2 linked regions of the Homo sapiens genome follow. Each later gene encodes a partner of the first gene's protein in a complex. Each region holds a gene or a part of one and is shown on either strand. Other genes may lie near its edges. A codon is read from its position in the direction of its gene.

The links.
Region 2: the proteins of CFD (region 1) and CFB are in contact, whole or in part, in a crystal structure (PDB 2XWB), measured with the Homo sapiens proteins. Residues at the interface, in NP_001919.2 of Homo sapiens: Asn157 (codon at 7,493), His158 (codon at 7,496), Ala159 (codon at 7,499), Gly160 (codon at 7,502), Arg161 (codon at 7,505), Arg162 (codon at 7,508), Arg182 (codon at 7,568), Thr183 (codon at 7,571), Asp186 (codon at 7,580), Arg200 (codon at 7,622), Val228, Cys229, Gly230, Asn231, Arg232, Lys233; in NP_001701.2 of Homo sapiens: Glu298 (codon at 10,705), Ala301 (codon at 11,006), Ser302 (codon at 11,009), Ala332 (codon at 11,099), Asp333 (codon at 11,102), Ile469, Asp470, Glu471, Ser472, Glu518, Tyr519, Lys585, Asp758, Glu759, Asp760.

The regions. Positions count from the first base shown.
Region 1 is NC_000019.10:854,318-870,180, forward strand, and holds CFD (complement factor D isoform 1 preproprotein), read left to right. Parts: upstream 1-5,346; 5' UTR 5,347-5,372; coding exon 5,373-5,427; coding exon of another isoform or gene 5,428-5,448; intron 5,449-6,299; coding exon 6,300-6,456; intron 6,457-6,543; coding exon 6,544-6,688; intron 6,689-7,381; coding exon 7,382-7,639; intron 7,640-8,774; coding exon 8,775-8,921; 3' UTR 8,922-9,324; downstream 9,325-15,863. Other genes in the region: ELANE (neutrophil elastase preproprotein), read left to right, coding at 1,247-1,477, 1,641-1,847; MED16 (mediator of RNA polymerase II transcription subunit 16), read right to left, coding at 13,784-13,934, 14,099-14,182, 14,546-14,629.
Region 2 is NC_000006.12:31,937,372-31,951,235, forward strand, and holds the start of CFB (complement factor B preproprotein), read left to right. Parts: upstream 1-8,723; 5' UTR 8,724-8,850; coding exon 8,851-8,914; intron 8,915-9,001; coding exon 9,002-9,235; intron 9,236-9,635; coding exon 9,636-9,821; intron 9,822-9,976; coding exon 9,977-10,150; intron 10,151-10,370; coding exon 10,371-10,472; intron 10,473-10,573; coding exon 10,574-10,710; intron 10,711-11,002; coding exon 11,003-11,141; intron 11,142-11,458; coding exon 11,459-11,590; intron 11,591-11,871; coding exon 11,872-11,973; intron 11,974-12,048; coding exon 12,049-12,186; intron 12,187-12,678; coding exon 12,679-12,776; intron 12,777-12,914; coding exon 12,915-13,032; intron 13,033-13,247; coding exon 13,248-13,401; intron 13,402-13,496; coding exon 13,497-13,573; intron 13,574-13,772; coding exon 13,773-13,864. Other genes in the region: complement C2 isoform 1 preproprotein, read left to right, coding at 1-88, 1,860-1,949, 5,588-5,728, 5,854-5,948, 6,045-6,156, 6,273-6,438, 6,546-6,622, 6,764-6,855 and 3 more.

The sequences.
Region 1 (15,863 bases):
GGTGCCTGTAATGCCAACTACTCAGGAGGCTGAGGAAGGAGAATCGCTTGAACCCCGGAGGCGGAGATTGCAGTGAGCTGAGATCACACCACTGCACTCCAGCCTGGGTCTCAAAAAAAAAAAAAAAGATTCCTCCCTGGGAAGGGTTAGAGGGAGAGTTTCCTTGTCACTAAGTTTTCTCATAGCTCTCACCCAGTGCAGTGGCGCGATCGCAGCTCACTACAGCCTCCATCTCCTGGGCTCAAGCCACCCTCTCAGCTTGGAATGGGGGGTAGCTGGAACCACAGGTGCCACCACGTGGGTCCACCACGTCTGGCTAATATATATATATACACACACACATACATATATTATAAATAATAAATATATATTTTATTTAAATAAAATATATAATATTTATAATTATTTTATAATTATAATAATATTTATATAATTATAAATATCATTTATAATTATAATATTTATTATTTTATAAAATAATAAATATAAAATATATAAAAATATTTTTATAAAATAATAAAAATATATATATACACACATATATATATATTTTTTGAGACAAGTCTCGCTCTGTCGCCCAGGCTGGAGCGCAGTGGCACAATCTCAGCTCACTGCAACCTCCGCCTCCCAGGTTCAAGCGATTCTCCTGCCTCAGCCTCCCAGGTAGCTGGGACTACAGGCGCCCGCCACCACGCCTGGCTAATTTTTGGTATTGTTAGTAGAGACGGGGTTTAACCATGTTAGCCAGGATGGTCTTGATCTCCTGACCTTTTGATTGGCCCACCTCAGCCTCCCAAAATGCTGGGATTATAGGCGTGAGCCACCGCACCTGGCAATTTTTTTTTATTATTTTTGTAGACATGGGGCTTTGCCACATTGCCCAGGCTGGTCTTGAATGCCTGGCCTCAAGTGATCCTCCTGCCTCGCCCTCCCAAAGTGCTGGGCTTACAAGCATGAGCCACCGCGCCCGGCTGTAGTTTTTTTGTTAACTGAGCACCTACTGCTTCCTGCACTCAAGCCACATCCAGGGACAACCTCCAACGCCCTGAGCCTTGGTGACGGCTCCCACTCTACAGATGGGGAAACCGAGGCTTGCCTTGGGGAGCAGAGTGTGGGGTGGGTATCCTGCCCTGCAGGATCCCAGAACCACAGTGGAACCTGAGATGGGGAAACTGAGGCCCGGAGAGGGGAGGGTCATCATCACTGCCCCGTGTGACGCGCTGACGATCTGTCCCCACCGCCACAGCTCAACGGGTCGGCCACCATCAACGCCAACGTGCAGGTGGCCCAGCTGCCGGCTCAGGGACGCCGCCTGGGCAACGGGGTGCAGTGCCTGGCCATGGGCTGGGGCCTTCTGGGCAGGAACCGTGGGATCGCCAGCGTCCTGCAGGAGCTCAACGTGACGGTGGTGACGTCCCTCTGCCGTCGCAGCAACGTCTGCACTCTCGTGAGGGGCCGGCAGGCCGGCGTCTGTTTCGTACGTGCCCTGGGTGTCCCTCTGCTCCCCACCCGCTCCCAGCCCGGACTGCAGCAACAGGCACCGTGGCTAGACCCTAGGAGGGACTTCCCAACCCTGACAGGCGGCGGGCAGGTGGGCAGGGCCTCGCAGTCCAGCTTCCCCACCTTGTCTGCCTCCACAGGGGGACTCCGGCAGCCCCTTGGTCTGCAACGGGCTAATCCACGGAATTGCCTCCTTCGTCCGGGGAGGCTGCGCCTCAGGGCTCTACCCCGATGCCTTTGCCCCGGTGGCACAGTTTGTAAACTGGATCGACTCTATCATCCAACGCTCCGAGGACAACCCCTGTCCCCACCCCCGGGACCCGGACCCGGCCAGCAGGACCCACTGAGAAGGGCTGCCCGGGTCACCTCAGCTGCCCACACCCACACTCTCCAGCATCTGGCACAATAAACATTCTCTGTTTTGTAGAATGTGTTTGATGCTCCTTGGCTGTGTGATTGGGTGTTGAAAATGGTCAGTAGGTCGGGCGTGGTGGCTCACACCTGTAATCCCAGCACTTTGGGAGGTTGAGGCAGGCGGATCACTTGAGCTCAGGAGTTCAAGACCAGCCTGGGCAACATGGCAAAACCCCCGCTCCATTAAAAAAAAATAAATAAATAAAATAAAATAAAATAAAATGGTCCAAGCCTGGCCCAGTGGCTTACGCCTGCAATCCCAGCACTTTGGGAGGCCGAGGCTGGCAGATCACCTGAGGTCGGGAGTTCAAGACTAGTCTGCCAACGTGGTGAAACCCCATCTCTACTATAAATACAAAAAAAATTAGCTTGGCGTCGTGGCGCGTGGGAGGCTGAGGCAGGAGAATCGCTTGAACCTGCGAGGCGAAGGCTGTAGTGAGCCGAGATTACGCCACTGCACTCCAGCCTGGGCAACACAGAGAGACTCCGTCTCAAAAAAAAAAAAAAAAAAAAAAAATACCGGTGCGGTGGCTCGTGCCTGTAATCCCAGCTCTTTGGGAGGCCCAGGCAGGCGGATCATCTGAGGTCTAAAGTTCGAGACCAGCCTGACCAACATGGAGAAACCCCATATCTACTAAAAATACAAAATTAGCCGGGCGTGGTGGTGCATGCCTGTAATCCCAGCTACTCGGGAAGCCTGAGGCAGGAGAATCACCTGAATTCTGGAAGGTGGAGGTTGCAGTGAGCCAAGATCGCTCCATTGCACTCCAGCCTGGGCAACAAGAGCGAAACTCCATCTCAAAAATAAATAAATAAATAAATAAATAAATAAATAAATAAATAAATAAATATAAATAATAATGATAATAATAATAATAAACAACAAACTAGAATCCAGAGTCTCTTGGGCATCTCTGGAGTAAGCCACCACCAGGGGGCAGCACAGCCAGGGCAATGGAGCAGAAGTGACTTCCCCACATTGTGTTTTTTTCTTTTTTGTTTTTAGATGGAGTCTCGCTCTGTCGCCCAGGCTGGAGTGCAGTGGCGCGATCTCGGCTCACTGCAAGCTCCGCCTCCCGGGTTCACGCCATTCTCCTGCCTCAGCCTCCCGAGTAGCTGGGACTACAGGCGCCCGCCACCACGCCCGGCTCATTTTTTGTATTTTTAGTAGAGACGGGGTTTCACCGTGTTAGCCAGGATGGTCTCGATCTCCTGAACTCGTGATCCGCCCGCCTTGACCTCCCAAAGTGCTGGGATTACAGGCGTAGCCACCACGCCCAGCCCTGTTGTTATATCATTTTCTATTCTCTGTGCGTATGAAATAATCCACAGGGGGCCAGGCATGGTGGCTCATGCCTGTAATCCCAGCACTTTGGGAGGCCGAGGTGGGCGGATCACCTGAGGTCAGAGGTTCGAGACCAGCCTGGCCAACATGGCAAAACCCTGTCTCTACTAAAAATACAAAAAGTTAGCCCAGTGTGGTTGCTCATGCGTGTAATCCCAGCTACTCGGGAAGCTGAGGCAGTAGAATCGCTTGAACCCGGGAGGTGGAGGTCGCAGTGAGCCGAGATTGTGCCACTGCACTCCAGCCTGGACGACAGAGCAAGACTCTGTCGCAAAAAAAAAAAAAAAGCAAGAAAGAAAGAAAAAAAGAAGGAAAGAGAAAGAAAGAAAGAAAAAGAAAGGGAAAGAAAGAGAAAAACAGAGAAAGGAAGGAAGGAAATGAGGCTAGGCGTGGTGGCTCACACCTGTAATCTCAGCACTTTGGGAGGCCGAGGCAGGCGGATCACGAGGTCGGGAGATCGAGACCATCCTGGCTAACACGGTGAAACCCATCTCTACTAAAAATACAAAAAATTATCCGGGCGTGGTGGCGGACGCCTGTAGTCCCAGCTACTCCGGAGGCTGAGGCAGGAGAATGGTGTGAACCCGGGAGGCGGAGCTTGCAGTGAGCTGAGATCGCGCCACTGCACTCCAGCCTGGGCGACAGAGCGAGACTCCGTCTCAAAAAAAAAAAAAAAAAGGAAAGAAAAGAAAGAAATGATCCATGGTGAAGAGAAAAGCCGGGGGAACCTCGTGTGCTGCTCCCCCTGGGGACAATGTCTGAGGTCCTCCCCACAAGGTATCCCCATCCTTCTGGTCCCCGCACCATGGATTAATGCAACGTGAATCCCGCTGGCCCCTGTGGGGCAGATGTGAAAAATGGAGCTACACCATGAGCAGGCCTGCAGTCCCAGCACTTCTGGAGGCTGAGGTGGGAGGATCACTTGAGCCCCGGAGGTCGAGGAGGCTGCAGTGAGCTATGATTGCACCGCTGCACTCGAGCCTGGATGAAAGAGCAAGACCCTGTCTGTAATAAAACAAAAACAACACACACAAATCCCCACCTCACAAAAGGCCCTATGGCCCAGATTCTGAGAAGTATTTTATTTTAATTTTTTTGTAGAGATGGGGTCTCGCCGTCTTCCCCAAGCTGGCCTTGAATTCCTGGGCTCAAGAGATGCTCCTATCTGGGTCTCTCAATGTGCCGGGATGGTAGGTGGGAGCCACTGTGCCCGGCCAGCCCTGACTCTGTTCATCAGAACCTGCCCTCAGTGAACAGTTTGGGAGGGGGCGTGTGATCCAGGCTCCACCAACCCAAGGCACCCTTGAGACTTGGCTGGAGTGAGGAAGAATTTTAGGAGGGGCCCACTGAGCCACTGGGTTGAGTGTGGGGTCCCTGGAAACACACCAGGGGAGGCTGGTGAGGAAAGAAGCCATCAGAGAAGAAAGGAGAAGCCAGAAGCAGACACTGGACATTGTTCAGGCACCTGGATCAAGCCACACCTGAAGGCGGACATCCCTGAACTTTCCATATAACTTTCATGATTCAGGCTCCACCCAGTTTGTCTGGGTTTTCCTGTCCCTTGTAGCCAGTCTTCCCAGCTGCCTCTGCCTTGGCCTTTCCAACTTTCTATTCGTCAGGGTGTCAAGCCCCAGAGGCCACAGGGACAGAGACAAAGGTGTCAAGTGACCTTCCTACCCCCAACAGACCTTCTCTCTAATATAGAGGAGGAAAAGAAGGGAGGGTAGCAGGACAAGAAAGTGGGTTGTTTACACGCTGTGGCCTCCAGCTAGGATTGTGAAACACCCTGGGGGACTCTGGGTGTGGTGAAGTTGGGGCCGGGGTGGGTGCAGCCCCCCTCTCTGCCTCCTGCCCATCTGAGGGACTGCCCCCCACCAGGGCCAGCAGGCTGTCAGGCTCACAGAGGCCCGAGGGTCTCCCAGCGACTTGTCGACTCTGGTGTGAGTCTGGCAGGAGGTAACCCAGTCCCGGGGAGGGCGGAGGCTGGGCGGGCGAGTTCCCCTTTCCCCAGCTGGGCCGCTGCCCACCCGGGGAGCGGCCCGCCCCCTCCACCCTCATAAAAGCACCCCCAGGGCCCTGCCTGGGTCAGTGTCTCAGCCACAGCGGCTTCACCATGCACAGCTGGGAGCGCCTGGCAGTTCTGGTCCTCCTAGGAGCGGCCGCCTGCGGTGAGGAGGCCTGGGCCTGGGGTGAGGGACAGGGCTGTGTAGGGGCGTGGTGCTCCCTTCCGTCACACGGACGGTCCTCCAGCCCCTCCAGGTGGGCAGGAAGGGGGTGTCTCTCCTCACTAATGGAAGGCTCTGAACGCTGAAAAATTCTAGAAAATTCAGATTGGAAATCGGAACTTTCTGGAGTCAGCTTTTCTTGCAGACAGAGTCTGAACGTCTGCGTGGAAAACTTCATCTGCGTGGCTGACTGGGCTGGCCCAGGCACTGGCTGGGTCAGCCCCATTTCTCTTATGTCCAACTGGAAGGCACTGCGCCCAGGGTAGGGCGCTGGGATCTGCCCCCGGTCCCCAGCCCACTGTGGGTTCTGTACTCTGGGGCATTCCCGCCCGAGGGTATCTGAGTTTGCAACGCTGAGGGGCCCCAAGACGGAAACGGGATTCTTTTTTTTCTTTCTTTTTTTTTTTGATAGGGAGTCTCGCTCTGTCGTCCAGGCTGGAGTGCAGTGGTGCGATCTCGGCTCACTGCAAACTCCGACTCCCGGGTTCAAGCGATTCTCCTGCCTCAGCCTTCCGAATAGCTGAGATTATAGGCCACGCCGACTAAATTTTGTATTTTTTTTTAAAGTAGAGACGGGGTTTCACCATATTGGCCAGGCTGGTCTTGAACTCCTGACCTCATGATCTGCACCCCCCCCTCCCCCCCCGCCCCCGCGCGGCTTCACAAAGTGCTGGGATTACAGGCGTGAGCCACCGCGCCCAGAGATGGGATTCTTGCGGGGAGCGGCCTGGGGGGTGAGAGCTGGGATCCCGTCAGGCAGCCTCGCCCGGGGGAGGAGTCCACCCCGCGGCCCTCACGCGCCCGCCCACCCACAGCGGCGCCGCCCCGTGGTCGGATCCTGGGCGGCAGAGAGGCCGAGGCGCACGCGCGGCCCTACATGGCGTCGGTGCAGCTGAACGGCGCGCACCTGTGCGGCGGCGTCCTGGTGGCGGAGCAGTGGGTGCTGAGCGCGGCGCACTGCCTGGAGGACGCGTGAGTGCCCGCGCCGCGCGGGGGAAGAGCCCGGGTGCGGTGGGGGGAGTCGGCTGGCACCGACCGCGGACTCCGTCCGGTCCCCAGGGCCGACGGGAAGGTGCAGGTTCTCCTGGGCGCGCACTCCCTGTCGCAGCCGGAGCCCTCCAAGCGCCTGTACGACGTGCTCCGCGCAGTGCCCCACCCGGACAGCCAGCCCGACACCATCGACCACGACCTCCTGCTGCTACAGGTCGGCCCCGTGTAGCGCAGTCCCTCCTGCGGCGCTGGGATCCCCGGCCCACCCTCACTCCACCCCGCCTACACCGCGCCCCGGGTCCAGCCTCGACCTCTCCTGCTGCATGGGGACCCCGCCCCACAACCCCCACACCCTCACCCCGGGTCTAGCCTCGACCTCTCTTGCTGCGCTCGGAGCCCCCCCACCCTCTGCACCCTCACCCCGGGTCCAGCCTCGAACTCTCCTGCTGCATGGGGACCCCGCCCCACAACCCCCACACCCTCACCCCGGGTCTAGCCTCGACCTCTCTTGCTGCGCTCGGAGCCCCCCCACCCCCTGCACCCTCACCCCGGGTCCAGCCTCGACCTCTCCTGCTGCATGGGGACCCCGCCCTACAACCCCCGCACCCTCACCCCGGGTCTAGCCTCGACCTCTGCGGCTGCACTGGGAGCCCCCCACCCCCCGCTCCCCCTGCATCCCCATCCCGGTTCCAGCCTCGACCTTTGCAGCTGCACTGGTGAGCCTCGCACCCACCCCATCCCCACCTGCACCCCCACCCAGGGTCTAGCCTAAATCTCTCCTGCTGCACTGAGACCCACGCCCCTGCCCTGATGCCCACCTCCCCCGTCCCGTCTCCCCGAGCCTAGCGGCATTCTCCCCAGCCTCGCACCCCCGCACCCCAACCCTGACGTCCGCCTCCACCCTCAGCTGTCGGAGAAGGCCACACTGGGCCCTGCTGTGCGCCCCCTGCCCTGGCAGCGCGTGGACCGCGACGTGGCACCGGGAACTCTCTGCGACGTGGCCGGCTGGGGCATAGTCAACCACGCGGGCCGCCGCCCGGACAGCCTGCAGCACGTGCTCTTGCCAGTGCTGGACCGCGCCACCTGCAACCGGCGCACGCACCACGACGGCGCCATCACCGAGCGCTTGATGTGCGCGGAGAGCAATCGCCGGGACAGCTGCAAGGTGAGCCTTCAGGCCTGGGAGGAGACGCGGGGCCTGCAGGCCCCGGGAAGGGCCTGCAGAGGGAGCGCGAAGCGGGGGGCAAGTAGGAACAGGGCCCAGGGAAGGGGCGGGGCGCGTAGGGGGCGGGAACTGGAAGATGGGCGGAGCATGAGGGTGGCCCGTGGGCGGGGCCTGTATGAGGGGGCGGGGCATGTGGGTAGGGTGGGGCCTTGGGGGCGAGGCCTGGAGAAGGTACGGGGCCTCTGGAGAGGGTGGGGCTGAAGAAGGGTCAGGGCGGGCAGAAAGGGCAGGAACGGGTGGGATGTGGAAGGACCTGTGGGTTAGGGTGGGAATAGGGGGCGGGGCTCGAGGAGGGGGCGGAGTCCAGTAATAGCGGGACTGCAAGGGGGCGAGGCCAGGAAGAGGGTTGGGGCATGAGGGGCAGGGCATGGAGGAAGGGGCGGTACCTGTGGGGAGGGTGGGGCTGGAGAAGGGTCAGGGCGGGCAAAAGGGCAGGTGGCAGAGAAAGGGTGGGAGGTATAGGGGGCGGGCACGTGGAGGAAGGGGCGGGGCATGGGGACGGGGCGGGGCAGGTGGAAGGGGCGGGAACCTCTGAAGGGGCAGGGCTGGTGCGGAGCGGGATCCCTGCTGTGGCAGGGAAGAGAAGGGGTCCTGAGCAGGGCAGAGGTTTAAGACCAGCCGAGGCTTGCATGGTAGCCGGGGCCAAGATTGGGTGGGGCTTAAGGGAGGGGCGTGGCCTGAGGTGAGTGGGGACTGAGCAGAGCAGGTGGCCACTGAGACGCGTTAGGGCAGAAGTGGGATCCACGGCAAGTCAAAGCTTGGAAGAGCAGGAATGAGGTGTGGGACCCCCATACTGGAAAGGGCTTGGAGCGGGGTGGGGTCGGGGGAACACGTGGTGAGGTTGAGGCCAGAGGGGGTGTGGCCAGGAGCTGGGGGCGGGCCTAGAGGGGCGTGGCTTGTGGTTGTGGCCTAGGCGATAGGCGTGGCGCGGGGCTATTGACTAGTGAAGACCAAATTAACACGGGAGGGATGAGCGAGCATTGTGGGGCGGGAGCGGCAGCCAGGTGAGGGGGTCTAACACGTGAGGCCGGGGTGGGCGCGGGCCGCCCCTCACGGCCCCGTCCTGTTCCGGCAGGGTGACTCCGGGGGCCCGCTGGTGTGCGGGGGCGTGCTCGAGGGCGTGGTCACCTCGGGCTCGCGCGTTTGCGGCAACCGCAAGAAGCCCGGGATCTACACCCGCGTGGCGAGCTATGCGGCCTGGATCGACAGCGTCCTGGCCTAGGGTGCCGGGGCCTGAAGGTCAGGGTCACCCAAGCAACAAAGTCCCGAGCAATGAAGTCATCCACTCCTGCATCTGGTTGGTCTTTATTGAGCACCTACTATATGCAGAAGGGGAGGCCGAGGTGGGAGGATCATTGGATCTCAGGAGTTCGAGATCAGCATGGGCCACGTAGCGCGACTCCATCTCTACAAATAAATAAAAAATTAGCTGGGCAATTGGCGGGCATGGAGGTGGGTGCTTGTAGTTCCAGCTACTCAGGAGGCTGAGGTGGGAGGATGACTTGAACGCAGGAGGCTGAGGCTGCAGTGAGTTGTGATTGCACCACTGCCCTCCAGCCTGGGCAACAGAGTGAAACCTTGTCTCTCTCTACAAAAAAAAAAAAAAAATTCTGCGTGGTGGCTCACGCCTGTAATCCCAGCACTTTGGGAGGCCGAGGCGGGCGGATCATTTGAGGTCAGGAGTTCCTGATCAGCCTGACCAACATGGTGAAACCCCGTGTCTACTAAAAATACAAAAAAAAATTAGCTGAGCGTGGTGGTGGGCACCTGTAGCCCCAGCTACTCAGGAGGCTGAGGCAGGAGGATAGCTTGAACCCGGGAGGCGGAGGTTGCAGTGAGCTGAGATCGCACCACTGTACTCCGACCTGGGTGACAGAGCGAGACTCTGTCTCAAAACAAAAACAGAAACATTAAAAAAAGAGGAACGCGGGAAGCTACAGATAAAAGCGCAAGAACGGAGAATACAGCGAAGTTCCGGGTCCAGCGCTTCCGTGGGGCTGACGCGGCCACACGGCGGCGCCCTTGCCACACACACACACACACACGCGCGAAGGCCCGCCAGGCATGGGTGTCCCCTCCTGGTCTGGCTCATACCGTTTCCCTTTGCTTACCAAGGGGAATGTGAGCGTCTTCTGTGTGCAAGGCTGTGGGCTGAGACTCAGGTGCACAGAAACCCTTCGAGGCCGTGTTCCTATGACCCATATCCCATAAGGGGAAACTGAGGCTCACAGGGACTGTGCGACTCTCCTGACCTTACACAGAAGCTCCAGGACACAGCCTGGACTGGAGCCCAGAGCCACGGAGCCTGCCTTCACAAACCACCCTGGGTGCGGCCAGACCCACACCAGGACGACGAGCAGCGGCACCTGCTTGCTGGAGGCCCTGGACCTCAGGTCACCCTTCTTGGCAAGGCCAGGGAGGACACCTGAGGCCCTGTGCCCTTTCTCCCACCTGGTGGAGGGGCAGCCAGGCGCTATCGTAGAAAAAGACTGATGGGCCAGGCGCGGTGGCTCATGCCTGTAATCCCAGCACTTTGGGAGGCCGAGGCGGGCAGATCACAAGGTCAGGAGATTGAGACCATCCTGGCCAACACGGTGAAATCCCATCTCCACTAAAAATACAAAAAAATTAGCCGGGCGTGGTGGCGGATGCCTGTAGTCCCAGCTACTTGGGAGGCTGAGGCAGGAGAATAGCTTGAATCCAGGAGGTGAAGCTTGCAGTGAGCCGAGATAGCACCACTGCATTTCAACCTGGGCAACAGAAGGAGACTCCATCTCAAAAAGAAAGAAAAAAAAAAAAAAGAGAAAAGAAAAAGTGACTGATGGGCCGGGTGCCGGTGGCTCACGCCTGTCATCCCAGCACTTTGGGAGGCTGAGGCGGGCAGATCATGAGGTCAGGAGATCGAGACCATCCTGGCTAACACGGTGAAACCCCGTCTCTACTAAAAATACAAAAAATTAGCCGGGCGTGGTGGCAGGCACCTGTAGTCCCAGCTGCTCGGGACGCTGAGGCAGAATGGCGTGAACCCGGGAGGTGGAGGTTGCAGTGAGTGGAGATCACACCACTACACTGCAGCCTGGGTGACAGAGCGAGATTCCATCTCAAAAAAAAAAAAAAGACTGATGATCTGAGAGGCAGGTCCGCTGGGAAAAGGGGGGATGGATTGATGAACACTGTGCTTGGGTGTTTTTGGGGCTATGGAACACTCACCTAGGAATCACACTGACGTGCAAGCACGTATTGAGCACTTACTGTGTGCAGAGCCCTGGGCCGGGCACGGTAAGACACATCTAAGCCCCAGCCCTGCTCTTAGGAATTTGGTAAATACTGCACTGCACGGAAGGGGGCCCATTCAGCCGTCTGGTGACCACCACGAAGTTGGAGCTCACTGTGTGAATTTCACGTTTTTGTTTTTGTTGTTTTTGAGACGGAGTCTCTCTCGTCGCCCAGGCTGGAGTGCAATGGCACGATCTCGGCTCACTGCAACCTCTGCCTGATGGTTCAAGCGATTCTCCTGCCTCAGCCTCCCGAGTAGCTGGGATTACAGGCATGCGCCACCACGCCCGGCTAATTTTGCATTTTTAGTAGAGACGGGGTTTCTCCATGTTGGTCAGGCTGGTCTCGAACTTCCGACCTCAGGTGATCCGCCCCCCCTCGGCCTCCCAAAGTGCTGGAGTTACAGGCATGAGCCACCTCGCCTGGCCACCCAGCTAATTTTTAAGATTTTTGTAGAGATGAGGTCTCGCCATGTTGCCCCAGGTTGGTCTTGAACTCCCAGGCTCAAGTGATCCTCCTGCCTGGGTCTCTTATGGTGCTGGTGCGTGAGCTGCTGCATCCGGCCTGCCTGGGCATCTTTGCATCCTTTGGTCCGCAGGAGCTACGGAGGGTTCCGGAGGAGGAGACGGTTTAGGAGGCGGTGGAACAGGAGTGGTGGGGAGGATGCAGGACGGGAACATCTGGGCACCACATAGTCCTCTGAGTTGAGACGCGGTCCAGTCTCCGCACTGCCATATATATGGCCTCTGTTTCCTCATCTGTATCTCGGGGCCCCAACGTCCCTGGCTCTTAGGGAGATTTTGAGGACCCCTGGGGGAACCGCGAGGCGACGAGGACCTTGGGAAGCCGGGGGCGGGGACAGCAGAGCTTCAGGGCCACAGGCCGCCTCTCAGCACCCCCATGCCCTGCCTGCCTCGCCCACCCCACTGTACCTGAGTGAGGTAGAAGCTCATGACAGCCAGCTTGTGACAGTGGTCTGACAGACCCCCCCCCCACCTAGTGACGCAAAGCCCACCCCGGCTCAAGTGGTCAGGAACTGATGGGACCAGGGGGCATCCTGTCCCCACTCCACGCGTCCAGACCTCAGCCAGGTCACCAGAACCACGGGGGGCTGGGGTCAGCTAGAGGCATTTTCACTTCTGAGTCGGGCACTGGGTGACTCTGATCTCCCGGCCCCTGAAGCTGCCCACGAGCCTGCGTCCCACAACGCATGGGCACCCTCACCAGTGCTCCCATCTCCTCCCCGTCCACCCGCCGCAGGCCTGCACCCCTCGCCAGCGCTCCCATCTCCTCCCCGTCCACCCGCCGCGGGCCTGCACCCCTCGCCAGCGCTCCCATGTCCTCCCCGTCCACCCGCCGCGGGCCTGCACCCCTCGCCAGCGCTCCCATGTCCTCCCCGTCCACCCGCCGCGGGCCTGCACCCCTCGCCAGCGCTCCCATCTCCTCCCCGTCCACCCGCCGCGGGCCTGCACCCCTCACCAGCGCTCCCATGTCCTCCCCGTCCACCCGCCGCGGGCCCGCACCCCTCACCAGCGCTCCCATCTCCTCTCCGTCCGCCCACTGCGGGCCCGCACCCCTCGCCAGCGCTCCCATCTCCTCTCCGTCCACCCACTGCGGGCCCGCACCCCTCGCCAGCGCTCCCATCTCCTCTCCGTCCACCCACTGCGGGCCCGCACCCCTCGCCAGCGCTCCTGCACTCTGGTCTCTGCAGAGCCACATGGAAACGCCGCAGACACCCGGACAAAAGCCGCCCCCAACCACCCGCCAGGGCCCACTGTGTTCTGTCTGTCACTTGCTTTGGACACCCCTGGCATCCACAAGGCGCCCCACACATGCTGAGTGACTGGGGGAGATGGAGGCCCACACACTCCTGAGCTCGAGAGGAGGTCGCAGGAGTGGGGCCGGGAGCTGCCCTAGGGTCTGTCCCTCAGAGGATGGCCAGGGGGACGGTGAGACGGGGCTCGGTGTCCCAGCAGAGCTTGGAGTCTGCGGCCGAGGACGGGGGCCTTAAAGTGGGGGGGCCTTAAAGTGGGGGGGCCTTAAAGTGGGAGTGCCTCAGCCAGGTGACGGGGTGCCTGAGCTCCCGCCTCGCGAGCCGGCACTGGGCACTCACCCCACCCTCGCTGCCCTCCCCAGAGCTGCAGAAAGGAGGAGTCCGTCGGCACACAGCAGGGGCACCACTGTGCTGGGAAGGCCTGCTGGAGACGGAAGGCGGGACCCCTGGGGACAGCAACAGAAACGGCAGAAACTTGGCCCAGGGGCTAAGCAACCTCCAGCAGAGAGCAGCTGGAGAAACATAACAGGGACAGAGTCAGGCAGAGACACAGAAACAGCATGCAGAGACACAGAGACCATACACAGAGAAGTGCAGAGATACCAGAGACACGCAGAAACAAGGAGAGCACGCAGAGACAGTATAGAGACAGGCAGACAACACACTGAAAGGCAGATGCCTGGACAGAAGCCACCCTGACGATGGCCGCCCCATCCCATCCACCGGCCTGCTGTGTCCTGTCCCCACTGCTCACTTTGGATACCCCCAGACTCGGCATCCACTAGGTGCCCCATAAATGCTGAAGGATTTAAAGACAGGCCAAGAGGACACAGGCTCCCGGCACCAAATCGAGGTCGTGGGTGGGGTCGGGGGCACCGACGGCAGGGACGCGGGCCTGGGCGCAGAGGGCGTTTATTGGACCTGTCCTTCCCAGCCGCTGCTTGTCCAGGTTCAGCGCTCTCCGCGGGTGAGGCAAGGAAACCGAGGAGACGCCCGAGCCGGGTCACCACAAGGTCCGCCTGGACCCCCGGCCGTCACGGACGGTCCTCTGGATGCAGATGGTCCAGGGATCTGGGGGTCCTGGGAGAGTGGTGTGTGGACTGCGGGCCCAGCTGGACAAAGGCAGGGGCTTCCTCAGAAGCTCTGCTGGTCACGCAGGCGTCCGGCCCACGGCCTTCAACAGCCCTGCAGGGCGGGCTGAGGTTAACCGCGCCGAGGAGAGTCCAGGGCGAGCGGTGGCTCTTGCAGCAGCCGGGCTCAGGGGCAGCTGAGGGGTAGCTGAGGAGTAGCTGAGGGGCAGCTGGGCTCAGGGGTAGCTGAGGGGCACCCGCCACCAGAGCCCACCGCACAGGCAGTTCTTGATCCAGCGCTGCTCCCACTGCTTCACCGCCGTGGTTCTGTTGGGCGACTTGAGCATGGTGACACAGCCGCACCTGCGGGGAGGCAGGCACTGAGCGGGTTCCCACTTCCAGGCGGGCCTCCCTTACGCCTGCCCCACTTTTGCTTCCAGGCAGGTCTCCCTCTGCTCGCCGTCCCTCACGCCTGCTCCCCACGTCCCCACCTGCCACAGGGCCTCTGCCCATGCTTCTCCTCCCCCCAGCAATGCTGCTCCCTGAACTAGCCCCGCCACACCAAGTTAACTGCTCCACATCCTGGGATCCTGGCTCCAACACTCCCTCTGGGACGTGCTCCCTCCACCACCCTTGACCGTCTGGAGCGCTGGGTGGGGGCTAGAATCAGCTGAGCCATCCCCAGCGGCACATCTCTGGGAGTCAGCGGTTCCGGGGGCCCCTCACCTGGTGCAGGCCTTGCATTCCTCCGTGGGGCAAGCGCCAAGGTGCAGCCTCCGCAGGTGGTCGATCTTGGGCTGGCCTGGGGCCCTGGCGGGAGAGGGGAGAACGTGAGGGAGGCCTGGGCACCACGAGGCCAGGTTCCGGCAGGGGCATCTGTCCACAGGCGGGGGTGGAGGGAATGGCCGGCCTCACACCATCTGCCAGGTGGGCCCAGATGTCTGTGAACAGTGAGGTGGGAGGTGCGGGACCACCTGAGACAGGCCCAGTAAAGGGGGCGGGACCCCCCACACGGAGGAGGGTTGGTCTCCCAGGTGCCTGGGGAGCTTGAGGCTTAGAGACCCAGTAAAGGGGACGGGGCCCACACAGGGACGAGGGTCGGTCCGCCACGTGCCCGGGGAGCCTGAGGTGCAGGGAAGGTGCTTGTGACGCTCCCATTTGAGGCTGGACAGAAGCAGGTACATGGGGACTTCCACACCACCTCTGCCCAGACACCCGGCCTGGAGGTGCCGGGACCTCTGAACGACAAGATTCTGGTGGCAAAAGCTGCCCTCGGTGGTGGGTGGGGGACCTGGGTCTGGGTGGGGGTGGGCCGGCTTATTCTGCTCTCATTAAATATCTGAAATTTTCCCAGTTTACAAGCCTCTGACGTAACCGTCCTCTCTTTCCATCAAGTCTTTTCCTGAAACCCAAACCCTCGTGTGTGACTCATTAGGAGGCCCCTCCCACAGTGAGCACGAGGAAGAAAATGCTGGAGGTCCTAGAGCCAAGCCAGGGCGCCTTCCCGGAGGTCCCGGAGCCAAGCCGGGGGTGCCTTCCCTGGAGGTCCTGGAGCCGAGCCGGGGCCTTCCCCGGAGCAGGGCTGCTGGAGGTTCACTTCATTTTCTTCCTTTTGCTCATCTGTGTTTTCTAAAATTCCAGCCCTGAGCAATCAGTGGCTCAGAGGGTTTGCATGTGCTCCTTGTCAAACGTGTGTCTGAAACAGGCTGGGGGTCTGACGGGCCTGGGTTCAAATCCTGACTCGGCCACTTCCTGACCGCGTGACCCCAGATGAGTGGGGTGACAAGGTCCCACCCTTTCCAGGCTGGGTTTCCTCACCGTGAAATGGGGTGACAAGGTCCCACCTCACAGGGCTGCTGGGCAGCCAGGGTCAGCTCAGCACACTTGGGTTGCCCAAACCCCGCACATTCCAGAGAAAGGCCAGCCCCGGGCCCTGCAAGGTGACCTCTTGCCCCCGGGAGATCCTCCTGATGAGGTGTCTGCTCAGCAGGGCCCTGGGCCATATGCTAAGGCGTCTCTCTCCATCCACAGAGGGATCTACGGC
Region 2 (13,864 bases), on another chromosome or scaffold:
CTCATGATGAACAACCAAATGCGACTCCTCGGCATGGAAACGATGGCCTGGCAGGAAATCCGACATGCCATCATCCTTCTGACAGATGGTGGGTATCATGGTCTCTGAGTGTGTCTGGAATAGTGGAAGGGGCACCAATATGGGGTCAGAAGCCCTGAATTCTGATTCTCCCTCTGCCTGCCACTTTGGGCCCCAGTTTTGTTTTTGTTTTTAGAGATGGGGCCTTGCTATGTTGCCCAGCTGATCTCAAACTCCTGGCTTCAAGCAATCCTCCTGCCTCAGCCTCCCAAAGTGCTGGGATTACAGGCATGAGCCACCACACCTGGCCCAGTTTCTTATTTATAAAATAGGGCCAGTGTGGTGGCTTATGCCTGTAGTCCCAGCACTTTGGGAGGCCAAAGCGGGTGGATCACTTGAGGTTAGGAGTTTGAGATCAGACTGGCTAACATGGTGAAACCCCGTCTCTACTAAAAATACAAAACCATTAGCTGGGTGTGGTGGCAGGCGCCTGTAATCCCAGCTACTTGGGAGGCTGAGGCAGGAGAATTGCTTGAACCTGGGAGGCAGAGGTTGCAGTGAGCCAAGATCATGCCACTGCACTCCAGCCTGGGTGACAGACCAAGATCCTACCTTGTCTCAAAATAAAATAAATAAATAAATAGAATTAGTGTTGATGATGATGACCGTAACCACAATGACAGCAATGATGATCATGATGGCTGTCCTCCTTTCCTTACACAATTTTTATGGAAAGCTATTTAAGTTGCCTGTGTGAAAGTGCTCTGTGTTAGCTCTTGTTACCATCTGGGAGGTAACTTGGAGATAGATGAGGAAACGTGGCTCTTGAGCAGGAATGTCGAAGGGCACGGATGCAAGGAACAGTCTGTAGTGGATCTGGCCTTGTCATTTGCCTCTTGCTATTGTCCAAATTACACAGTTCCTCCAGGACTTAGTATATAAAATGAGGATACCCACTCTACCTGGGGTTTCATGAGAATTAAATGAGTTAAAGTATAGGAAGCACCTGGCCTGGTGCCTGGAATGTAGAACATTTCAGTAAAAGTGTGTATATATATATATGTATGTATATATATATATATGTATACATACATATATATATATATATATTTATTTTTTTGAGACAGGGTCTCACTCTATTGCCCAGGCTGGACTACAGTGGTGCGATCTCGGCTCACTGCAACCTCTGCCTCCCAGGCTGAAGCAATTCTCGTGCCTCAGCCTCCAGAGTAGCTGGGACTACAGGCATGTGTCACCATGCCTGGCTAATTTTTATTTTTATTTTTTGAGATGGAGTTTCACTCTTGTTGCCCAGGCTGGAGTGCAATGGCGCGATTTCGGCTCACCGCAACCTCCGCCTCCCAGGTTCAAGCGATTCTCCTGCCTCCTGAGTAGCTGGGATTACAGGCATGTGCCACCACACCCGGCTAATTTTGTATATTTAGTAGAGGTGCGGTTTCTCCATGTTGGTCAAGCTGGTCTCAAACTCCCAACCTCAGGTGATCCACCTGCCTTGGCCTCCCAAAGTGCTGGGATTACAGGCATGAGCCACCATGCCCGGCCACACCTGGCTAATTTTTTGTGGTTTTAGTAGAGACAGGGTTTCACCATGTTGCCCAGGCTGGTCTGGAACTCCTGAGCTCAGGCAATCCGCCTTCTTCGGTCTCCCAAAGTGCTAGGATTACAGGTGTGAGCCACCATGCCCAGCCTAAAAGTATATTTTGAAGCTCTCACAGGCAATGTAAATGTTGAGGTTCCCAGGCTAAATGCTTTCCTACTCTTCCAGGGCCTGGGGAAATCCTGATATTACCTAGAAGAATTCTTTATTCTCTTTGTTCTAGGAAAGTCCAATATGGGTGGCTCTCCCAAGACAGCTGTTGACCATATCAGAGAGATCCTGAACATCAACCAGAAGAGGAATGACTATCTGGGTGAGCCCCTGCCACTGCCACCACATTTGTTCTGCTCCTGCAGAGGTCATGAGATCTTCAGCCAGGGATCCCAGCATCTTAGCTATGGTCCAGAGCCACATGGTTTTATTTCTGCGTTGTTCTGTACAAAGGCAACTCATGTTGAAGAGCCTGGGGTCAAACTACTGCCCATGGTCTCAACCTTACCTTCTTTTTTTTTTTTTTTTTTTTTAAGACAGTGTCTCACTGACACTCAGAGTATATTCCTGGAAAGATGTCCACCCATGCCGGCCCAGAAGCTGGTCCAGAAAGTAACGATGTCCACCATGCCACCATGAAGTGCAGTGGTGCAATCATAGCTTACTGCAGCCTCAAATTCCTGGTTTCAAGTGATCCCCTCAACTCAGCTTCCCAAAGTGGTAGGATTACAGGTATGAGCCACTATGCTCAGCCCGTCTTCACAAATTTTTTAAAATTAATTTTTAAATTTTTTTTGAGACAGAATCTTGCCGTGTTGCCCAGGCTGGAGTGCAGTGACTCGATCTCAACTCACTGCAACCTCCACGTCCTGGCTTCAAATGATTCTCCTGCCTCAGCCTCCAGAGTAGCTGGGATTACAGGTGTGTGCCACCATGCCCGGCTCATTTTTGCATTTTTAATAGAGACAGAGTTTCACCATGTTGGCAGTCTGGTGTCAAACCCCTGGCCTCAAGTGATCCGCCTGCCTTGGTCTCCCAAGGTGCTGGGATTACAGATAGGCGTGAGCCACTGTGCCTGGCCAATTTTTAATTTTTTAATTATTATTTTTAATCAACAGCTTTAGACAGAGAACCTTGGTTTCATCTTCAGTGGGCTGTGGCCATGGGCAGTTTCTTCATCTGCAAAAGGGGAGTAGTACTAGGACCCAGCTCACAAGCTGACAGGGGAAGATGCTCAGACAAACACTGCCTGCCTGGCATAGAAAAATGCCCAGCATATGTTAGCCATGACCACGACCGTCGTCGTTATCATCATCATCATCATCATAGCATCTCATGTTTCAGGAAACTTTCCAGGAAGAAGGGACCTCGATTCCCTCTGGGGAATGTCCCTGGTGGTTGCTCTTTCAGCAGCACAGCTGGCTAACTAAGGCTTTGGCAGTTGCAGCCTCTAAAGGAAAAATTCCTCAGGTTCAGACTAAACACAAATTGCACTGACCTTTGATCAGAAAGTAATTTCAGAGAGAGAGATGCTCAGACAGGGAGGGCAGCTGGTTTTGAGCCCCAACCTTTCATCTTCCCCTTAGCTCCTCTCCTTTCCATTCACACTGCCCCCTCCCCCATCACCTGGCCCTCGGGGGTAAGCTGATTCCTCTTTAAAACTCTGGCCCAAGGAAGACAAAATTTAAAGCCCACTCCCTTCCTCCTTAGCATCACTGGACCAAGGTCAAATGCTACAAAAACATTTTATTGAAAATAAGCAGGAAACCAAACGAAAATAGTCAAAGAAAACGCACAAGGCACGATCGTTGTCTAGCTCCAACTGTAACTGTTTCTATCTGGGCCATTGCCAGATTGCCTCCTGGCTGAAGATCTCTTGGTCCACCTAAGCACCTTGCTTTTTACACACAACGCGGGGCTCTCTGAGAACAAAAATGGGCCACAAGGGGTGCAAAGGCTGGGAGAGGAGTAGACTCTGTGGTCTGTCTGAGGGCAGTTCTGACTGGCACCACAGTCGGAGGACAGGCGCGGCCTGTTGTGTGGGTCCAGGGCCTCCAGTGGGAAAACGTGGCTTTAGGCCCTTCTCCCAGATGCTACCTTTTACAGAGGAAGACCAGATCTGAGGTTTAGTTTCCATGTTGTGTTCTGAGTTCTTTCTATTCATTCAGTCATTTAAAAGTACTTACCAAACTACCACAAACCTGGGTGGCTTAGAACACAGAATTTCTTTTTCTTACAGTTCTGGAGGTTAGAAGTCTGAAATCAAGGTGTTGGCAGGGCCGTGCTTCCTCAGAAGGCTCTTGGGAAGAATTCTTTCCTGCCTTTTCCGGCTGCCGGCAGCTCCAACCTTGGCTTGCGGCAGCATAAACCCATTCTCTGCCTCTGTCTTCAACTCGCCTTCTTTTCTGTGTGTGCCTCTGTGTCATTACATGCTGTTCTCTTATATAGATAGGAGACCCACTACCTGTGTCTTTGTGTCCAAATTCCTTTCTTCTTTTTCTGTTCATTTGTTTGAGACAGAGTCTCGCTCTGTCACCCAGAAGCCCAGGCTGCAGTGCAGTGGCGGGATCCCGGCTCACTGTAACCTCTGCCTCCTGGGTTCAGGTGATTCTCGTGCCTCAGTCTCCCAAGAAGCTGGGATTACAGGCATGTGCCACCATGCCCGGCAAATTTTTGTATTTTTAGTAGAGACATGGTCTCGCCATGTTGGCTAGGCTGGTCTTAAACTCCTGGCCTCAAGGCGATCTGCCTGCCTTCGCCTCAAAAAAACTGCCGGGATTACAGGCATGAGTCACCACCATGCCCAGCCAGTTCACTTTTTTTTTTTTTTTTTTTTTTGAGATGGAGTCTTGCTCTGTTGCCCAGGCTGGAGTGCAGTGGTGCAATCTCGGCTCACTGCAACATCCGCCTCCCGGTTCAAGCGATTCTCCTGCCTCAGCCTCCTGAGTAGCTGGGATTACAGGTGTGTGCCAGCATGTCTGGCTAATTTTTGTATTTTTAGTAGAGACAGGGTTTCACCATGTTGGTCAGGCTGGTCTTGAATTCCTGACCTCGTGATCTGCCCGCCTCAGCCTCCCAGAGTGCTGGGATTACAGGTGTGAGCCACCGTGCCCGGCTCACCTCTTCTTTTTTTTTTTTTGAGACGGGGTTTTGCTCTTGTTGCCCAGGCTGGAGTGCAATGGCGCGATCTTGGCTCACCACAACCACCGCCTCCTGGTGATTACAGGTGTGAGCCACCACGCCTGGCTCTGGCTTACCTCTTCTTATAAGGACCTCAGTCATTGGATTAGAGCTCACCCTAATCTAGTATGACTTAATCTTAACTTGATTACATCTGCAAAGACCCTTTTTCCAAATAAAGTCACAGATACTGGGGATTAGGACTCGAACACATCTTTCTGGGGGACACAATTCCACCATTACAGGGAATAAACAGGATAAGAAAACCATAGAACCCAGCAGGTGGTAGGTGACACAAGCTAAGGGGTGTTGCCATGTTGCCCAGGCTGGTCTCAAACTTCTGGCTTCAAGGGATCCTCCCACCTTGCCTCCCAAAGTGGGGATGAAAGTTTGTCTGGGGCATTGCAGTTTTAGACAGGAAGACCAGGGAAGGCCTCACTGAGAAGGTGACATTTGAGCCAAGACTTAAAAAGGTACGAAAGTGAGCCATGTGGAAGTCTGGGGGGGAGGAGTGAACTAGGCAGAGGCACAGCTGGGCAAAGGGCCTGAGGTGTGACCATGCCTATGGATTTGAGGAACTTCAAAGAGGCTGTGTGCTGCAGGAGAGTGAAGGGCAGGGAGTGGCAGGAAATGAAGGCAGACAGGTAGCAGTGGGGAGGACGCAGGGGTCCAGCTCATGTAGGTCTTGATTGGACACAGTGAGTTTCAGATGACAGCCTCCTGTCTCATGGGGTAGCCCCAAAGCCACAGGAGTCTGGTGATTTCCCTCTTCCCCACCAGACATCTATGCCATCGGGGTGGGCAAGCTGGATGTGGACTGGAGAGAACTGAATGAGCTAGGGTCCAAGAAGGATGGTGAGAGGCATGCCTTCATTCTGCAGGACACAAAGGCTCTGCACCAGGTCTTTGAACATATGCTGGGTGAGTGAGCTTTGCCCTCCTTGGTGTGGGGAGGATGGTGAGGAGCCCGCCAGAGGCCCGTGTTGGGAACCTGGACACAGTGCCCCTCACTTGCCTCCTTCCCCATCTGATCCTCACACCCACAGATGTCTCCAAGCTCACAGACACCATCTGCGGGGTGGGGAACATGTCAGCAAACGCCTCTGACCAGGAGAGGACACCCTGGCATGTCACTATTAAGGTACCAGGAAGGAGGGGCAGGGCTTGGATTCCAGAGGTAAAAGCGGCCATGGGCCAGACATACTGCAATCTCTGAAAATCACCTGTTCCCCTGCAGCCCAAGAGCCAAGAGACCTGCCGGGGGGCCCTCATCTCCGACCAATGGGTCCTGACAGCAGCTCATTGCTTCCGCGATGGCAACGACCACTCCCTGTGGAGGGTCAATGTGGGTAAGGCAGGGGATGCACCAGCCTCCTGATCCTGAAGCCACAGATCCTACCACCTCACCCAGCCTCTGGCCCCTGCAGGAGCCCTGGTCTAGCCTAATCTAGTGTATCATTTCCAGGAGACCCCAAATCCCAGTGGGGCAAAGAATTCCTTATTGAGAAGGCGGTGATCTCCCCAGGGTTTGATGTCTTTGCCAAAAAGAACCAGGGAATCCTGGAGTTCTATGGTGATGACATAGCTCTGCTGAAGCTGGCCCAGAAAGTAAAGATGTCCACCCATGCCAGGTGCCTGGAGTCTGGGATGGGAGGGTGCCCTGCAGGGAAGAGTGCTCTGGAGATCCCTGGAAGAGATACTGGGGACAGGCTGGTGTGACCCTTGCTCTTCTCCCCAGGCCCATCTGCCTTCCCTGCACGATGGAGGCCAATCTGGCTCTGCGGAGACCTCAAGGCAGCACCTGTAGGGACCATGGTGAGTGCTGGGACTTATGGTGCTTGAGAGCTGGGGCCGGGGTTTGGGGGTGATAACAAGGACTAGGCTGCAGTCCCCAAGCCAGGAACCTGGATTCTGGGTAAAAGGACCAGCACCAACATCCCCTTCTCTTGACTATAGAGAATGAACTGCTGAACAAACAGAGTGTTCCTGCTCATTTTGTCGCCTTGAATGGGAGCAAACTGAACATTAACCTTAAGATGGGAGTGGAGGTGAGGGTCTCAGGTTGGGGATGCTGGGATCCCCCTGTGACAGCTCCCAGAATGTCTCTCTTCCTTCTCCAGGTCTGGCTGCTTTCTCTCTCTGACGCGGGTCACCCCTCCTCCCAAGCCTCACAAACCTGCTAGGTGTCCCTGGGTCTGCTTATTCTTTTTTTGTTGTTATTGAGATGGAGTCTTGCTCTGTCTCCCAGGCTGGAGTGCAGTGGCACGACCTCAGCTCACTGCAACTTCTGCCTCCTGGGTTCAAGCGATTCTCCTACTTCAGCCTCCCGAGTAGCTGAGATTACAGGTGCCCACCACCACACCAGCTAATTTTTGTATTTTTAGTAGAGACGGGATTTCGCCATGTTGGCCAGGATGGTCTTGAACTCCTGACCTCAAGTGATCTGCCTGCCTCAACCTCCCAAAGTGCTGAGATTACAGGCGTGAGCCACTGCACCCACCCGGGTCTGCTTATTCTACCCTTCTCTCTGGTTCCACCCCTGCTGCAGTGGACAAGCTGTGCCGAGGTTGTCTCCCAAGAAAAAACCATGTTCCCCAACTTGACAGATGTCAGGGAGGTGGTGACAGACCAGTTCCTATGCAGTGGGACCCAGGAGGATGAGAGTCCCTGCAAGGGTGAGTCCCTCACCATGCCTGGATTCCCAAGGGGAAGGCCACCTGTGTCTCTGTGGCCAGCATGCATGCCAGAACACCAGTCCACTGCCCTAGATGACACTGTCTCCTGTCACCCTTTGCTGGCAGGAGAATCTGGGGGAGCAGTTTTCCTTGAGCGGAGATTCAGGTTTTTTCAGGTGAGAAGGTAGAAGCTTGCAGGACCCAGGGGTTACAGGATCTCAGCCTTGTTGGGGGGATGAGGGAGGCCTTTGAGGGATCTAGGGAGGTTGGGGCTTACAGTTGGGGCTGTGGCAGCCTCCCAGCCAGTTCTCTCCTTTTCTCCAGGTGGGTCTGGTGAGCTGGGGTCTTTACAACCCCTGCCTTGGCTCTGCTGACAAAAACTCCCGCAAAAGGGCCCCTCGTAGCAAGGTCCCGCCGCCACGAGACTTTCACATCAATCTCTTCCGCATGCAGCCCTGGCTGAGGCAGCACCTGGGGGATGTCCTGAATTTTTTACCCCTCTAGCCATGGCCACTGAGCCCTCTGCTGCCCTGCCAGAATCTGCCGCCCCTCCATCTTCTACCTCTGAATGGCCACCCTTAGACCCTGTGATCCATCCTCTCTCCTAGCTGAGTAAATCCGGGTCTCTAGGATGCCAGAGGCAGCGCACACAAGCTGGGAAATCCTCAGGGCTCCTACCAGCAGGACTGCCTCGCTGCCCCACCTCCCGCTCCTTGGCCTGTCCCCAGATTCCTTCCCTGGTTGACTTGACTCATGCTTGTTTCACTTTCACATGGAATTTCCCAGTTATGAAATTAATAAAAATCAATGGTTTCCACATCTCTCAGTGCCTCTATCTGGAGGCCAGGTAGGGCTGGCCTTGGGGGAGGGGGAGGCCAGAATGACTCCAAGAGCTACAGGAAGGCAGGTCAGAGACCCCACTGGACAAACAGTGGCTGGACTCTGCACCATAACACACAATCAACAGGGGAGTGAGCTGGATCCTTATTTCTGGTCCCTAAGTGGGTGGTTTGGGCTTACTGGGGAGGAGCTAAGGCCGGAGAGGAGGTACTGAAGGGGAGAGTCCTGGACCTTTGGCAGCAAAGGGTGGGACTTCTGCAGTTTCTGTTTCCTTGACTGGCAGCTCAGCGGGGCCCTCCCGCTTGGATGTTCCGGGAAAGTGATGTGGGTAGGACAGGCGGGGCGAGCCGCAGGTGCCAGAACACAGATTGTATAAAAGGCTGGGGGCTGGTGGGGAGCAGGGGAAGGGAATGTGACCAGGTCTAGGTCTGGAGTTTCAGCTTGGACACTGAGCCAAGCAGACAAGCAAAGCAAGCCAGGACACACCATCCTGCCCCAGGCCCAGCTTCTCTCCTGCCTTCCAACGCCATGGGGAGCAATCTCAGCCCCCAACTCTGCCTGATGCCCTTTATCTTGGGCCTCTTGTCTGGAGGTAAGCGAGGGTAACCTTCCCTTCCTGCTGTCTCCAGCATCCCTCCTTGGCCTTTTGGGGCCAGGCTTCATCAGCCTTTCTCTTCAGGTGTGACCACCACTCCATGGTCTTTGGCCCGGCCCCAGGGATCCTGCTCTCTGGAGGGGGTAGAGATCAAAGGCGGCTCCTTCCGACTTCTCCAAGAGGGCCAGGCACTGGAGTACGTGTGTCCTTCTGGCTTCTACCCGTACCCTGTGCAGACACGTACCTGCAGATCTACGGGGTCCTGGAGCACCCTGAAGACTCAAGACCAAAAGACTGTCAGGAAGGCAGAGTGCAGAGGTTTGAGGGCAATGAGTGTGGGCAGTGGCCTAAGGCAGAAACAGGGCAGGCGGCAGCAAGGTCAGGACTAGGATGAGACTAGGCAGGGTGACAAGGTGGGCTGACCGGGAGTAGGAGCAGTTTTAGGGTGGCAGGCGGAAAGGGGGCAAGAAAAAGCGGAGTTAACCCTTACTAAGCATTTACCCTGGGCTTCCAGGCAGCCCTGGAAGTCAAGAGAACACTCAGAAATGGGGAGGGAGAAGCAGTGGAAATCCATATGGGTTGAGGAGTAGGTAAGATGCTGCTTCTGCGGGACTGGGAATGCGCTGTTTCTCAGTGACATGGTCTCCGAGACCAGGAGGGATACACCTAAGGCAGCCTTTCCCTCTTGATGACTTCTACTTGTCCCCCCTTCTCAAAGCAATCCACTGTCCAAGACCACACGACTTCGAGAACGGGGAATACTGGCCCCGGTCTCCCTACTACAATGTGAGTGATGAGATCTCTTTCCACTGCTATGACGGTTACACTCTCCGGGGCTCTGCCAATCGCACCTGCCAAGTGAATGGCCGATGGAGTGGGCAGACAGCGATCTGTGACAACGGAGGTGAGAAGCATCCCCTCCCCCTACATTGCTGTCTCCCTGACGGCGCCCAGCCCGAGGAGTGGGCACTCGGCTCCGGACACTGTAACTCTTGCTCTCTACCTTGCTCACGGGGCCTCAGGCTTCAGTGCTTACCTCGATGTCTCATACCTCTGCAGCGGGGTACTGCTCCAACCCGGGCATCCCCATTGGCACAAGGAAGGTGGGCAGCCAGTACCGCCTTGAAGACAGCGTCACCTACCACTGCAGCCGGGGGCTTACCCTGCGTGGCTCCCAGCGGCGAACGTGTCAGGAAGGTGGCTCTTGGAGCGGGACGGAGCCTTCCTGCCAAGGTGACCTTTGACCTGTACCCCCAGGTCAGATCCTGGTCTTCCATCCTACTGTCTTCTCTCCCCACCTCAACCCTGCTCTTTCCTCACTTTGTTTAAACCTCCCTGTACAACTATCTCACTTCTGAGCCTTTTATACCCTGGAAACCCATGATCCCCCGTCTCTTTGGTCACTGTATCCCTGACACTCCCAGACATTTGACCTCATTTCTGACTCTCCCAGACTCCTTCATGTACGACACCCCTCAAGAGGTGGCCGAAGCTTTCCTGTCTTCCCTGACAGAGACCATAGAAGGAGTCGATGCTGAGGATGGGCACGGCCCAGGTTTGAAGACAGAGAAGGGAGGCAGGGCAGGGAACTGGGGGAAAATGGAGAAGGGACAGAACTGTTAATGCTGGAGCCTGAGCCACTCTCCTGGCACCCAGGGGAACAACAGAAGCGGAAGATCGTCCTGGACCCTTCAGGCTCCATGAACATCTACCTGGTGCTAGATGGATCAGACAGCATTGGGGCCAGCAACTTCACAGGAGCCAAAAAGTGTCTAGTCAACTTAATTGAGAAGGTGGAATCCTCCTATCCCTGAACTCGGGGGAATGGAATCTCGCTGATCTTCCAGGACTAGCTCCCTGATCATTCCAGCCCCTCTGAACAACAGGGCCCCAGGAAAATCTCCAGGTCCTATTCTGTCCTCCTTCCCTTTTACTTGAAGCAGTTTCTTGACTGGTAATTCCTCCATGAACCTCAGCCCTTGAGCCTCTTACTGAGAGCCTCCCTGTCCCAGCAAAGTCGCTGAAATCTCCCAATCACAGTATTCTATTTTCAATGCCATGGCGCCTTGTTCTCCTCACCCACAGGTGGCAAGTTATGGTGTGAAGCCAAGATATGGTCTAGTGACATATGCCACATACCCCAAAATTTGGGTCAAAGTGTCTGAAGCAGACAGCAGTAATGCAGACTGGGTCACGAAGCAGCTCAATGAAATCAATTATGAAGGTCAGAGGTTAGGGAATGGTGGGAGGTTCACTTTGGGGTCAGGAGGTTCAGGGTGGAGGGGGTCATGAGACTACCTTGAGGGCGACAGGGAGGACCACTTTGTAGTCAAAAGTTGAACAGCAGGATCGTTGGGCAATGGAGGTTAGTGGGAACCTGTTGGGGGCTGGAAGGGCCACTTTGTGGTCAAAGGGAAGTCCGTGTAATGATGATTAACTTAAAAAGTTGAAAGATGTGGGATTTCAGTTGCAGATTGGTCTCTGGGGTTAAAAGATGGCTTGGAAGACCAGGTGAGGTGATGGTCTCTTCCCTCTCCACAGACCACAAGTTGAAGTCAGGGACTAACACCAAGAAGGCCCTCCAGGCAGTGTACAGCATGATGAGCTGGCCAGATGACGTCCCTCCTGAAGGCTGGAACCGCACCCGCCATGTCATCATCCTCATGACTGATGGTCAGAAGGGACCTCTCTCCTGTCCCAGCCTCCCCACCTTCTCAGACCAGCATGTGGCCCTTAAGTCCACTTGTAACACTATACCCATGGTTGGGGCCCTGAATGTGACTCATAGCTGGCTGTTCATCTCTCCTGTGACCCTTCATAAGGAATTCTTCCTAAGCCCTGTGATCAACTATCTCTAACCCTTCCTCAACTTGCTCACCCTGCCATGTGTATCCCTGCCTTTAGCCAGTTTATCTTCCTTATCTCCTACCCTCATGGTCCTGTCTCTTCTGCAGGATTGCACAACATGGGCGGGGACCCAATTACTGTCATTGATGAGATCCGGGACTTGCTATACATTGGCAAGGATCGCAAAAACCCAAGGGAGGATTATCTGGGTGAGTAACCTGCCTAGGACCCAGCACCCCACTTCCTCAGGGCTTGGACCCTCATCCTTCCTTTTTATCCCTCAGATGTCTATGTGTTTGGGGTCGGGCCTTTGGTGAACCAAGTGAACATCAATGCTTTGGCTTCCAAGAAAGACAATGAGCAACATGTGTTCAAAGTCAAGGATATGGAAAACCTGGAAGATGTTTTCTACCAAATGATCGGTAGGGAGATACAAGGGAATAAAGAACACAACTCTCCTCAGGTTCCCCTGAAGTAATTCATTCTTCCTCTACACCTGAAGCTCTAGTTGCCTGGAAAGCCTTCTTCATTCCTCCTTCTCTACCTCAGTGTCACTATTCTTGTTTCCTGGCACTGTTCACTTAACCTTAGAATCACAGAGCTCTGAGCACTTCAGAGATCTTTCTATAGTCCTACATTTGACACGTGGAAACAGAAGCCAAAGGAGGTCAAGGGACAGCAAGTTAGCAACAAGGGTGGGCTTGAAAACAGCCAGGCCTCTGACAGCTTGATCCCAAGTTCTTTCCCTTTTCAGTCCACCATAGCAGTTTTCTCCTAACACGAGGAAACAAATACCCGTGGTCTTTCCCTTTCTCCTTTTGGGCCTTTGCTCCCCATAGACTCCTACCCAAAAGGCTGCTGCCATTTGGGAATGAAGTGTTCCGAGTTTTCAGCACATTCTCCTTCTCTGCCAGATGAAAGCCAGTCTCTGAGTCTCTGTGGCATGGTTTGGGAACACAGGAAGGGTACCGATTACCACAAGCAACCATGGCAGGCCAAGATCTCAGTCATTGTAAGCACAGAATCCCAGTAGTGGGGACTTGGGGGAGGTGAGGTCAAGGTGAAATGGGAGTAGGGGAAGGAAAAAATGGCCATAAGAGATGGTGGTTTGTGAAAGTTGAGCTTTCCCTCTCTACTGTTGTGTCCCCAGCGCCCTTCAAAGGGACACGAGAGCTGTATGGGGGCTGTGGTGTCTGAGTACTTTGTGCTGACAGCAGCACATTGTTTCACTGTGGATGACAAGGAACACTCAATCAAGGTCAGCGTAGGTAAGGATGCAACTGAAGGTCCTGGGCTGCACCTATGCTCTCCAGGCAACACCTCCCACTTTCTACAGATCCTACACTCCACCCATCCTCAATGCAGCCCCATTCCTTGCACCCCAGACCAGTCAGGGATGGGGGAAGACGTGAAGTTAGGAATGACACGGGGCCAGAGGCAGGAAGCTGCCCACAAAGAGGTGGTACCTACTCTCCTACTTCAGGAGGGGAGAAGCGGGACCTGGAGATAGAAGTAGTCCTATTTCACCCCAACTACAACATTAATGGGAAAAAAGAAGCAGGAATTCCTGAATTTTATGACTATGACGTTGCCCTGATCAAGCTCAAGAATAAGCTGAAATATGGCCAGACTATCAGGTGAGAGCGTCCAGATCCCTGAGGAAAGGCTGGGAAAGGCTGGAGGACTGGGGTGAGGAGCAGGCCTGGTTTGCTGTTCTCCTTGTCCTTTATAGGCCCATTTGTCTCCCCTGCACCGAGGGAACAACTCGAGCTTTGAGGCTTCCTCCAACTACCACTTGCCAGCAACAAAGTAAGACATACTTGGCAAGAGGATAAGGATGAGATCCCAAGAGACAAGTGGGGCATGAGAGGGAGGTGCAATAGGAAGAGATGATGCCTGGCCCAGAACCTAGCTCTAGAAGGGCTTAGGGGACATCTACTGAGTGACAAAGGCAATGGGGAGATGACAGTGGTGGGAGCAGCTGAAGTGACGCAGTCTATTCGTCCAGAGGAAGAGCTGCTCCCTGCACAGGATATCAAAGCTCTGTTTGTGTCTGAGGAGGAGAAAAAGCTGACTCGGAAGGAGGTCTACATCAAGAAT